Regions from separate parts of the Homo sapiens genome. Here region 1 is linked to region 2. The links come from fine-mapping of genetic effects on gene expression. A gene starts in region 2. The other region holds a variant in brackets. All regions are shown on one strand. Distances are from middle to middle.

What was found. PIP is the estimated chance that this variant, and not a neighbour inherited with it, causes the effect.
Region 1: its variant is the best candidate, but not a certain one, in a credible set for the expression of MGLL in whole blood (INTERVAL, PIP 0.65).

The regions. Positions count from the first base shown.
Region 1 is chr3:127,708,683-127,713,682 of GRCh38, forward strand. It overlaps MGLL (monoglyceride lipase), which reads right to left. Exons shown (of 8, transcript NM_007283.7): 6 at 1,894-1,983. Among named protein-coding and RNA genes, the nearest start is that of ABTB1, 38 kb to the left of the region's middle. The variant G/A (reference allele first, on the strand shown) is at 2,400.
Region 2 is chr3:127,820,232-127,825,733 of GRCh38, forward strand. MGLL (monoglyceride lipase) reads right to left here and starts at 2,284. Exons shown (of 8, transcript NM_007283.7): 1 at 2,078-2,284; 2 at 1,463-1,607. The coding sequence starts at 2,087. RefSeq lists a silencer at 2,726-3,245.

The sequences.
Region 1 (5,000 bases), 110 kb before region 2:
TTTCTCAAACCTACTGTTGTCCTGGCACTGCCGCTACAAAGATCACTGGTTTTACCAGACACCACACCTTCAAGCTAGAGCCATTATGAGGGATGCAGGCAGGTGCAGGAGCCCCTGCCCCACACTGAGTTTCCCTGTCAAAGTGGGTCCCGTACAGAGAGCAATGGCCATGGCCATGGGCTGCGTGGACCAGCAATCAATTGTAAAACAGGAAACAGAGCTTAATGACCATAATTACTAGCTAGAGGGAGGCACCAAAGCATGGACTTTTGAATAAAATGGGCTAAAATCCCATCTCTGCCCCTGACTAGTTGTGCAATCTTGAACAGGTTATTTAACCTCTCCAAGCCTCAGTTTCTTCATCTGTGAAATGGGGTTAATGTCGATCTCATTCATGTCAGGATTAAATCAAACAGTGTATATTTGGCTTTGGTCTTTCTGGGTCCTAAAGTTGTGCTCTTTCACTGTATGAATCTGCTTTTTGGAATTAAAGTTTTTTTCCTTTATTCAGATATTCTTTCAGAAAGACCAGGGGCCACACACTGGTCCCTAATGGGTCCAACCTGGCCCCAAGATGTAGGTTTGGGAGGCACTGTGGGCTTTAAAAACCAAATTATATTAGAATTTTAAATTAATGTGGATGGGTTGGATGGATCAGATGCCCTCTGGCTCCACACAGGCCTCATGGCTTGCTAGAATCTCTCACCAGTCTGATTTTTAAGCAGCTGGCCCTCAGAGGCCTAGGAGTTTTCAACCCCTGATCTAGAAAGTCTCTTTCCTACACACCACGGGCTATTCCTCTTGAGTTGCCCACTCTCTAAGTGACTCAGAGGGCCAGAAGGCCACAGTTTATAATGAAGCTAGAGTCCAACAGCCCAAGGAAGTCTGGGAACATCCCCAGAATGCTAGAGCACTGCACTCCACTTCCCAGGGCCCTTTAGGGAGCCAGTGATTCAGTGATTTAGGGAGCCAGTGATTCAATGATTTCAAACTCCTAAAGCAAGAGGGCAACTGAGGCAGAAGAGTGGCAAACTTATTTGCTTAATCATGAAGATAATGCTGGTGTCTTCTGGATGCTTCCTACCCATTAACTGCAAGCCCACTCCCATACCCAGACAGAGCACAGCTGGAGACCACACCTACCCACGTTCCCAGGCTAGCCTCACCACTGGCTGACCCCAAGCAAGTCATCCCACGTTATGGGGCTCAGTTTGCTCATCTGCAATATGGGTCTGTCCTTCCTTTGCTACCACTATTCTGAGTTACCCCCAGGGATCCCCTTCCTCTACTCTCAGTGGGTGGGGATGATACTACCCCCCTTTCCTGGACAAATAATCCAGGCCTGGATAATCAGTCAGTAAGAATCAGCCCTGAGACTTTTGCTGGAAAGAGGTGCTGTTTTTCCACTGGGGTTGCTCAGGTAAACCTGCTGGTGGCCCTCTTGGCCTTCACTGGGGGAAAGCCTGTCTGGGAATGAAGCCAAACCAGGGGAGATGAAAGCTGGGAAGAGACCGATGGAGAATAAGACTTTCAACGCCCTGGATCCAGCCATGTCTGAAGCCTTCAGTTCCATTCACCACAAAATCCCTGCTTTTGCTTAAATCACTTTGATGTAGGTTTCTGTCTCTTGCAACCAAGAGACTTGACTGGCACACACTCAACTTCCACTGTTGGCTCCTTTCATGTTTAGAACACAGCTCAGGCATCATAGCCAACCCACCCTTTTCACCCAAACCTGAAGCCAACCATGTCTAATGCACCACTGTGTCCTTGTCACTTTGCACAGGGCCTCGGTGAAAGGGCAGCAGAGAATGCCAAGGCTGGAGCCAAAACTCTGATTCCCCATGGGGGCAGCCACCCAAGCTACCCCTGGGGTTTCGGAAAGCCTCTCACCTCTGTCTTATTCCGAGAGAGCACGCTGGAGTCGATGGGCCCGAGGGACAAGTTTGGCAGCACAAGGTTGAGCACTTTCGCAGCAAGGACCTAGCCGGGGAGGGAAAACAAGGGCTGTGAGCACAAGTGGCATCCACACCCGGCTCTTCCGCAGTGACAGTTTACAGTACATTAAGGAGAGTGATGCCCAAACTGAACATCAGCCAGGTTCGTCTCCCAAGCCTGCGTCCTTAAGCCTGCATGCCCAAGGACTCTCCCTTCTGACTCAGCCTCTATTCAGCCTGGCTCTGCTCCACCTTGGGGGAGCTGGCCAGGCAGCCGCTGCGCCCAAGGTGGGAAGTCACGTCTGAATTTTGCCCGCTCTATACCCTCCCCATGATCGCTCATGGGTTGTAATTTTGCATCACTGGCAAGAGTTGCCTGGGATGAGCTCTGGCCATTTCTCTGGGGTACTGAAAATACACGGCAGGTGCAGAATCACACAGATCAACTGAGCACGAAGCAGG[G/A]CAGTGCGGAAGGGCCCACAGGAGCCACACAGAGAAAGTGTGCGTCCATTTCTCTCGGGTGGAAGTAGAAATAGCACCAGCTCGATGAGGAGGCTGTGTGGCAGAGGGAAGGATTGCTGGGTTTGATTCCTAGCTCTGCTGCCTCGTGAACATGGGCTGGGATTTCCACATCGCTGAGCCTCCGTTTCCTCAGCTGCCAGTGGGACCTTGACCCTCCCCCAGAGGACCACGGGGAAGGTGAATAACACCCTGTGTGCAAAAGCCCAGGGAACACAGCAGGAGCTTAACACATGCTCATTGAACTTGAGCCTGATTGAGGCCCAAACCTTCCCACCCCCTCCCCCATCTCTCCTTCTGGATCTCTTGTTTTCCCAGGAAAACAGAGAACCCGGATCTCACACTTCTGCCTTCAGAGAGGGGCTGTTTTCATTTCTGCAATGTGCACAGACATTTGGGGATGAAAGATGCTATTTCAAAAGTGAGCTGTGAAATGCTGAAATTAGAATTGGACGGAAGGTGGCAAGCAGTGAATTCTCAGTGTACATCAAGGGCACAGGGCACGTAGCTCAGTACCCTTGGCAGAGGGCAAGGGCACTCACAGGCACCGAGGAACCACCTTCTGGTGCATTGGGCACAGTTTCCCTATCTTTTTTTTTTTTTTTTTGAGAGTCTTGCTCTGTCACCCAGGCTGGAGTGCAGTGGCGCAATCTCGGCTCACTGCAACCTCTGCCTCCTGGGTTCAAGTGATTCTCCTGCCTCAGCCTCCTGAGTAGCTGGGATTACAGGCGCGTGCCACCACGCCTGCCTAATTTTTGTATTTTTAGTAGAGACGGGGTTTCACCATGTTGGTTAGGCTGGTCTCAAACTCCTGACCTTGTGATCCGCCTGCCTCGGCCTCCCAAGGTGCTGGGATTATAGGCGTAAGCCACGGCGCCCGGCCAGTCTCCCTGTCTTTGCAAAAACCCTGGGAGATGAGGCTTCATCCTCACTGAACAGATGAGAAAATGGAGGCTCGGTACCATGAGGTCCATGGGAGGGGCCCCGGGCTGGGGGGCCGCTTTATCTTCTTATGCCACACAGCCTGGATTACTACGTCTCTGTCTCTGCCGCTGTCTGTGTCTCTCTCCACAAATGTAACCCAGAGCTCTAACCTTCCCGTGGGTCTTGGCACCAGCGGCCACTGATGTTCTTTTGGGGGACAAGATTGCTGTGCTTGCCCACCCTCCCTGTAGGCCAGGGCTAAACCTTCCTGTGTCCTAGGCCCGCACAAGTGTGGCGTGACTGCCCACCACGATTGTTTCTCAACCATCCAGTATCAGGCAGACAGCAAAAAACGGGCTTTTCTCCTAAAGGGCTTTGTTCCATGTGCATGAACCTATTCGGAGTTCCATGTGGTCAACACTCCTTTTCTCAAATGGTAGAAATCAGTAATTCCTTCTTAGTGCAAAGGTGGCAGCCCCCTGCCTCTGAGGATACCGAAGCTTACTGCCCTCCAGCCTTGGCATCCAGGCAAGCAGATCTCATTCTGCAGCCGCCACTGTGCCAGGTGCTTTGCTGAGCCCTGGGCTCCGACTTTGACTGTCTAGTATAGAAGCATGCGGCAGCCTGACTTTGAGCACTGTGCAGGGGCATGGTGTGTCTGCATAATCGGAAGCCTCGAAGGGTGGCCGTGATGGGTCAGGAATGTTCAAGAGTCCAGCTAGTATCATGGGCCAGCTCCAAGAACGAGCCTGGGAAAGGAAAACTTGGAATTCTGGGAACTCTGCACAAGGACTGGGGTATTTTCAAACACGGATCAAATGTCTGTGAACTCCAAGAATTGGGAGCTCGTCTGCATTGGGATCTGTGCTTTCAAAGGTTAAAACAATCTAAAAATGAGAAAATGGAGTGGATCAGTGCATAAAGGCAGTGGGCTGTGGCTCTGTGGCCTTCACTAGACTCTGGCTGTGTAAGGACGAGTGTTCCAGGGCCTTAGCGCTCTCCTCCAGCAGCAGTGGGCAAGGGCCACACTGTGAGGGAAGACTTCTGTGTTCCACAGTTATGAAGAACTCACTTCTAGATATTCTGCTGTTCTCAGTACCCTGTCACTACTCCCTGATGCTGGCAGTGTGTGTGTCCATGAAACACCACAAACACCTCCTCCCAGTGCTGCCCTGAGAGACTGATTGTATTGGCCGAAGTGGAGCCCTGGCATCAGTGCCTTTTTAAAGTTCCCTAGTGATCCTGTGTGCAGCCAGAGGAGACATGGGGCTGCCAGCTGTGGCGGGAGGATCCCCACCACACTCAGGAACCGCAGGAAGGCTCTGTGTAACGGGATGGTGTGCAAGTGCCAGCCTTGCAGGCGCTGCTCCCAGGTCAACCCACCTGCCTGCTGGGGCCCACACAGCCTTCTCAGGGACATGACTGTTTTATGTAAGCCAGCTTCCTACCCATTCCCTGACCAGATGGCTCAGAGCCAAGAAAAGGCCCAGGGACCCAGCACCTCAGCAGTGCCTGCCACAGAGGTGAAAGCAAGAGACCACCCAGCATCCACACCATTTCGTCCAAGCCCACCACCAGATTTCTCATTGTGCCACCATTTGTGTTTTGGGGACCCATCAC
Region 2 (5,502 bases):
GTTGAGTTATCATCTCTAACTAGAGCAAAAGCAACGGAGCAGAGAGGGCTCCCTGCAATGCAACTTCAGCACAGAGATTGTGAAAACCACCCGCAGGCGAAGGGAGGGCAGGGCAGCCAACTTGACCGTTTCTAACCCACTCACCCACCACCCTCCCCCTGTGCCAGGACTGCAGAACCTCTTTATTTTTGTTGACTTCGAACTAGGACAACCTCACTACTTAACCAACAAAGCCCCCCAAGTCTGAGACTCAGACATTAAAAACTTCTATTTTCAATTATTTGTCTTCTTTCTGTATATTGATCAAATTACCACAAACCACTAATCTGTTAGAAATTAATCCAAGATTGAGCAATTCTACAGCCAGTTAAGTCAGAGTGGAGAATTAATGATTAATTAGCATCATAATGCTCAACAACCCCCCCACTTCCTCTAATGCGTATGCACGTACAGACACATTCTTTAAGAAATGTATTACCAGAACTGGTAGGAACTCTTCTCAGCACGTTACCCACTTGAAAACACTAGAGAGAAACCATAGCCAGTCTGTGTAGCTGCCCTGAAGCTATGACTCTATGCCGGGTTTTAAAAGTCCATATCTCTGTGTTTTTAACGTGCAGCTCCCTGGATCATAGATACCTTGATGAAGACAGAGAAGAAATTTTACACCTGTGTGAGGGTTGGGTGATTACTGGAGCACAAAGAGAGACATAATCCAACCACACAATGATCCCTAGGAGACAAGAGGCCTACAAAACAGGTAAAATGTCCCTGGAACAGGAAATGTTCTTGTCACCAGGCCAATTGGTTACCACAAATAAATTCTTTTTCCAAATAACACAAACAAGCAGGGTTTTCCTGCTTCATCCAAGAGGAGGGAGCAGCAGCAGGAGACCAGCTGTCTTGTGTATAGTCCCAATGTTTGCTTCTAATAGCAAGACAAATCCTTGATGGAAAATGTACAAAGTAATTGAGCTGGCAAGGAATCAGAAGGAAATACCCAGGCCCCTTTCTTCCTGGTGACACATGTATGCCATCTTCAGAAGCTCAGAAACAAGCAGGAAAAGTGAGCAAAGGTGAAGATATATGTATTACTTCGGGTTTCTCATCCATCTAGGGGATTTTCCTTAATTGTCGGGTTTGATTTTAAATGAATGCCTGTACAACCGGAAATCAACTCCAGTACAAAAAATAAAGTCATGTGGAATTTTTGAAAATTGCCATACGGTAGGATCCATATCTGAGTTGTTATAATGAAAAAAGAATTCCTGCTTCTTAAATTTAAAAATTATAAAGTATACATTTTAGCTTTGTTAACATTGCTCAGCCTAACATTAAAACGGCAGGGGAAGTAGGTCATAGAGAAAGCGGCCCCGCCCCAGATGGCACATGATAACGACCAGAGGAGAAGCAGGGGCCATGCTCCCCTGTCACCTGGGGTGACTTTCTGGGGAAGACTTACTTGGGTGTGCCTGTGGGTTTCCAGTACCTGCAGAAGAGGTACTGTCCGTCTGCATTGACCAGGTGAGGGAGGTCCTGGTAGGGAATGCTCTGCGGGGTCCGCCTGGGGGAACTTTCCTCTGGCATGCTGGAAGGGTCTTCAGGTCCTAGAAGGAAAAGTGACATATTCCAAAGTCAGAAATATCTCAAGAACATGTATGGATAGGAGAGAAAAGTCTAGTTCAGAGTCAGTAACATTTTTTTAAAAGCAGTTTAAAAAACCCCTCTGTTTCAAAGGTTTAAAACATACATACATTTCTTGCAAACCTCTCCAAGACTGAAAAATCCCATTTGTTCTTAAGAAAATGCTCACTTTATTTTTTAAGTGCCTCATTACAGTTTTTCCCCCTTCCCATCTGTGTTTATTTTAAATCATTTCAGGAAACTTCATCTTAAAGACTATTTTAGCTGTAATCAAGTGGAAATTATAGTCAGCTCTATGGGTACAAAGACCCAGCTGCAAGAAGACCCATCTATCTTAAAATCTCCAAGGAACAGTTTCAAGTGGGCACAATAATGAGGTGGATGATACTCAGATTATTCCTCCCATCTGAAATTCCAAGGATACATGACAAACCTGTTTCCATTATGTGCTGGCGTTTGCATTCCACAACCACGACAGCCTGGAGAATCAGAACCAGGCAAATCGGGCTGTTCCCTCATCTGGGCGGCCCCAAGGCAGCAGGAAGGCAGCTCCGAGCCCTCTTCCCGCACCCAGACCCTGCCTTTCGGGCTGGGGCGCTCAGCCGGGAGCCTGCTTCCAGCTCCCACCGGCAGGCTCTCCGGGGCTCCCCTCCCTCCCCAGGGCGGGGAGCGGCGCTGCGATTCTCCACTACTAGTTCATGTCATCACTTTTCCTAAACAAATCGCTAGAGGGGCTCGGAGAAGGGAGGGGCCCGGGAAACTGGGAAACTAGCTCCGCGCACACCGAGGCACCTCGCAGACGCACAAATGCGGGTGCCCAAGGCAAAGTCGCCCCCAAGGCTTCTCACAAACTTTGCTTCCTGTGCGTCTCCGACAGCACAGGACACGTAGCCCCGAAGCTGTCATCGGAAATGCCGCTGGGAAAACCGGGTGGGCTTCGCCGGGTGTCTGCACCGGGGAAGGTGGGGACTAGAAAGATGGAGTTGATGGGGACAAGTTGGTTTGGGGGCTGGTGCGAAGGAGCAGGGAGGGCGCGCGCGCGCGCACACGCGCGCACACTCGGACACGCGCGCACACACACCGTGCACACACACACACGCACACATGGGTAGCGGGAGCCCACGCCGGGCGTGTCCGGGACCCCAGTGCTGCTCCCCACCCCTGACGGCGGCACTGGCGGGCTGGGGCAGGGGCCGGGAGGCAGTTACCGGGGCCACGAGCGCCGCTGTCGCGTTCCCCGAGCGCAGCGGATCCTCGTTTGCGGCGGGCCAGGGCCGGGACGAGCTGCGCGCGACCGGCTTCGCGGCGACAGGGTGCGGCGTCTGCGCCGCCACTTTATCCCTGGGCCGGCTCGGCGGCGGGGGCGGCCCGAGGTGGGTGGGGACGCGCGGGACCCGGCGGGCGGCGGGCGGCGCGGGGAGGCGGCGCCCGGGGCCCACGTGTGCCCGGCCCGCGGGGAGGAGCGGGGGCGCCGCCCGCCGACCCAGCCACGCACTCCTCTCCTCCGCGCCTCGTGGACAGCCGCGCCCCGGGGTGGCCGCCCGAGGACTGTCAGGGAGGCCTGAACTGAGCTGGGTTCATGGGAGCCTCAGCGCGGGAGGACACACCACACCCACGGGCACACGCGCGCACACAGACCCACAGGCACCACACGTACACAGACAACTCGCGCAGGGCCGCACACTCACCACACGTGTACACATGTGCACTCCCAAAGTCACTACACTGCACGCAGGGACATACAGACACACATCCCAGAGATACCACATGCATACAGACACACACAGACCACACATGCATGCACACACACAAGCCGAGACATAGGCACAGACAACCCACAGAGACACAGAGGTGCACAGACATATGCAGACTATACACCTGGCCCCCACATAGACACAGACACACTCACATCATACACACACAGTCGCACACAGACACACTCACACTTCATTGCAGTCAGACACATACAATGCTGGAGGGGCAATTAACCGGTCGTGGTGGCATGCGCCTGTAGTCCCAGCTACTCAGGAGAATCGCTTGAACCCGGGAGGCAGAGGTTGCAGTGAGCCGATACCACACCATTGCACTTCAGCCTGGGTGACAGAGTGAGACTCCATCTCGGGGAAAAAAAAATGCTGGAGGGGGTCCACTTGACTCTAGGGTAGTGTAAAAGCAGATGGTGCATGGCTACAAATGCCTTGTCCCTTCCTGGCAATCCCCAGCAACTCTCCCGTTCCCAGCGGCTGTGACCCCCAGATAAAACCTCTGGTGCATCTACACAGGCCAGGGCACAGTCTGAGCTCTGTCCAGTATAACTAGCAACGTGGCCGTGGAGGGTAAGGCCACTGGACTGAGACTCCACACCACCTGGGTTGAACATTAGCTCCTCCGCTTGCTCTTTGAGCCTCAGTCTACCTACCTTCAACCTGTGAGTGATATACCTATGCCCCAGTGGAGTGTCCCTGTCTCACACTGACCTCAAGAGGCCTTCCTGTCTTTCTCCGCAAAAAATTCTACACCATAGCAGCGTTGAGGACTGTGTCTCAGCGTCACACTGTGTGTGTCCAAGGAGGCCCAAGTTGCTACAGAGCCTGTGGTCTAACTTGAGAAATAAAACAACAGCCTTTGAGCAGTGGCTTGAGTTGTAGGCACTGCTGAGCGTGACTTACCCACTGTCTGGCCTCCAGCAGGCCACGAGGCCTGGAGCAGAGGAGTGGCTAAGTGACTTCTGGTCGGGGCAGCTCTACAGAATCCATGCAAGAGAGGTTTAGGGGCGGCAGTCTCAGGGGCAGGAAGCTTGGGGGCTTCACTCAAAGCTGGACATGCTAAGTGCACCGGATTTCCGTTGGTTATAATTCATGGAAAGGAAGGGTGCTCGGGGGTCTGATGGACGCTTTTATCAAGGCATTATTTCAAATGTTCCTGGCTCTAACATTTTATGATTTAAAATACACAGCTTGAAAATTTGGAGGAGAGGCCGGGCTCAGTGGCTCACGCCTGTAATCCCAGTCCTTTGGGAGGCCAGGCAGGTGGATCATCTGAGGTCAGGAGCTGGAGACCAGCCTGACCAACATGGTGAAACCCCATCTCTACTAAAAATACAAAAATTAGCTGGGCATGGTAGCGGGCACCTGTAATCCCAGCTACTCGGGAGGCTGAGGCAGGAGAATCGCTTGAACCCGGGAGACAGAGGTTGCAGTGATTGCACTCCAGCCTGAGCGACAGAGCAAGGCTCTGTCTCAAAAAAAAAAAAAAAAAAAAAAAGCTTTGAGGAGAGACTTCACTGAAGTTGTCAGAGGGATCTCAGTAGAAGTGACATTTGCAAACTTGAAGAGATCCCCCAAACTTGGTTATGGACAGAACTGAGACTGTGGTGTGTGGCCAGCCAACTGGGAATTTGGGAGTTAAGAGACAGATCGTATTGTTCTGTATCTGGCTTTTTCTTTTAATTAAACTTATTCTGAGATAATTGTAGATTCGCATGCAGTTGTAACAAATAATAAAGAGAGATGCTATGTGCCCTTTACTCAGTTTCCTGCAATGGCAACTTCTCACAAACCACAGTAAATATCACAACAGGATACTGACACTGATAGAATATCTGTAGTCAAGCTACAGAACGTCTCTACCCCACAAAGTGGTATGCTTTTATAGCCACATCCACTTCCCTCTCATCCTCACTCCCCTAGAACCCCTGGCAACTGCTAATTTGTTCTCCATTTCTAAAATTTTGTCATTTCAAGGATATTTTATGAATAGAATCATAAAGTACATAACCTCTAGGATTCACCTTTTCATTCAGCATAATTCCAGGTGGGTTGGGTGTAGCAGTCCACAGTATGGAAGTACCACAGTGTG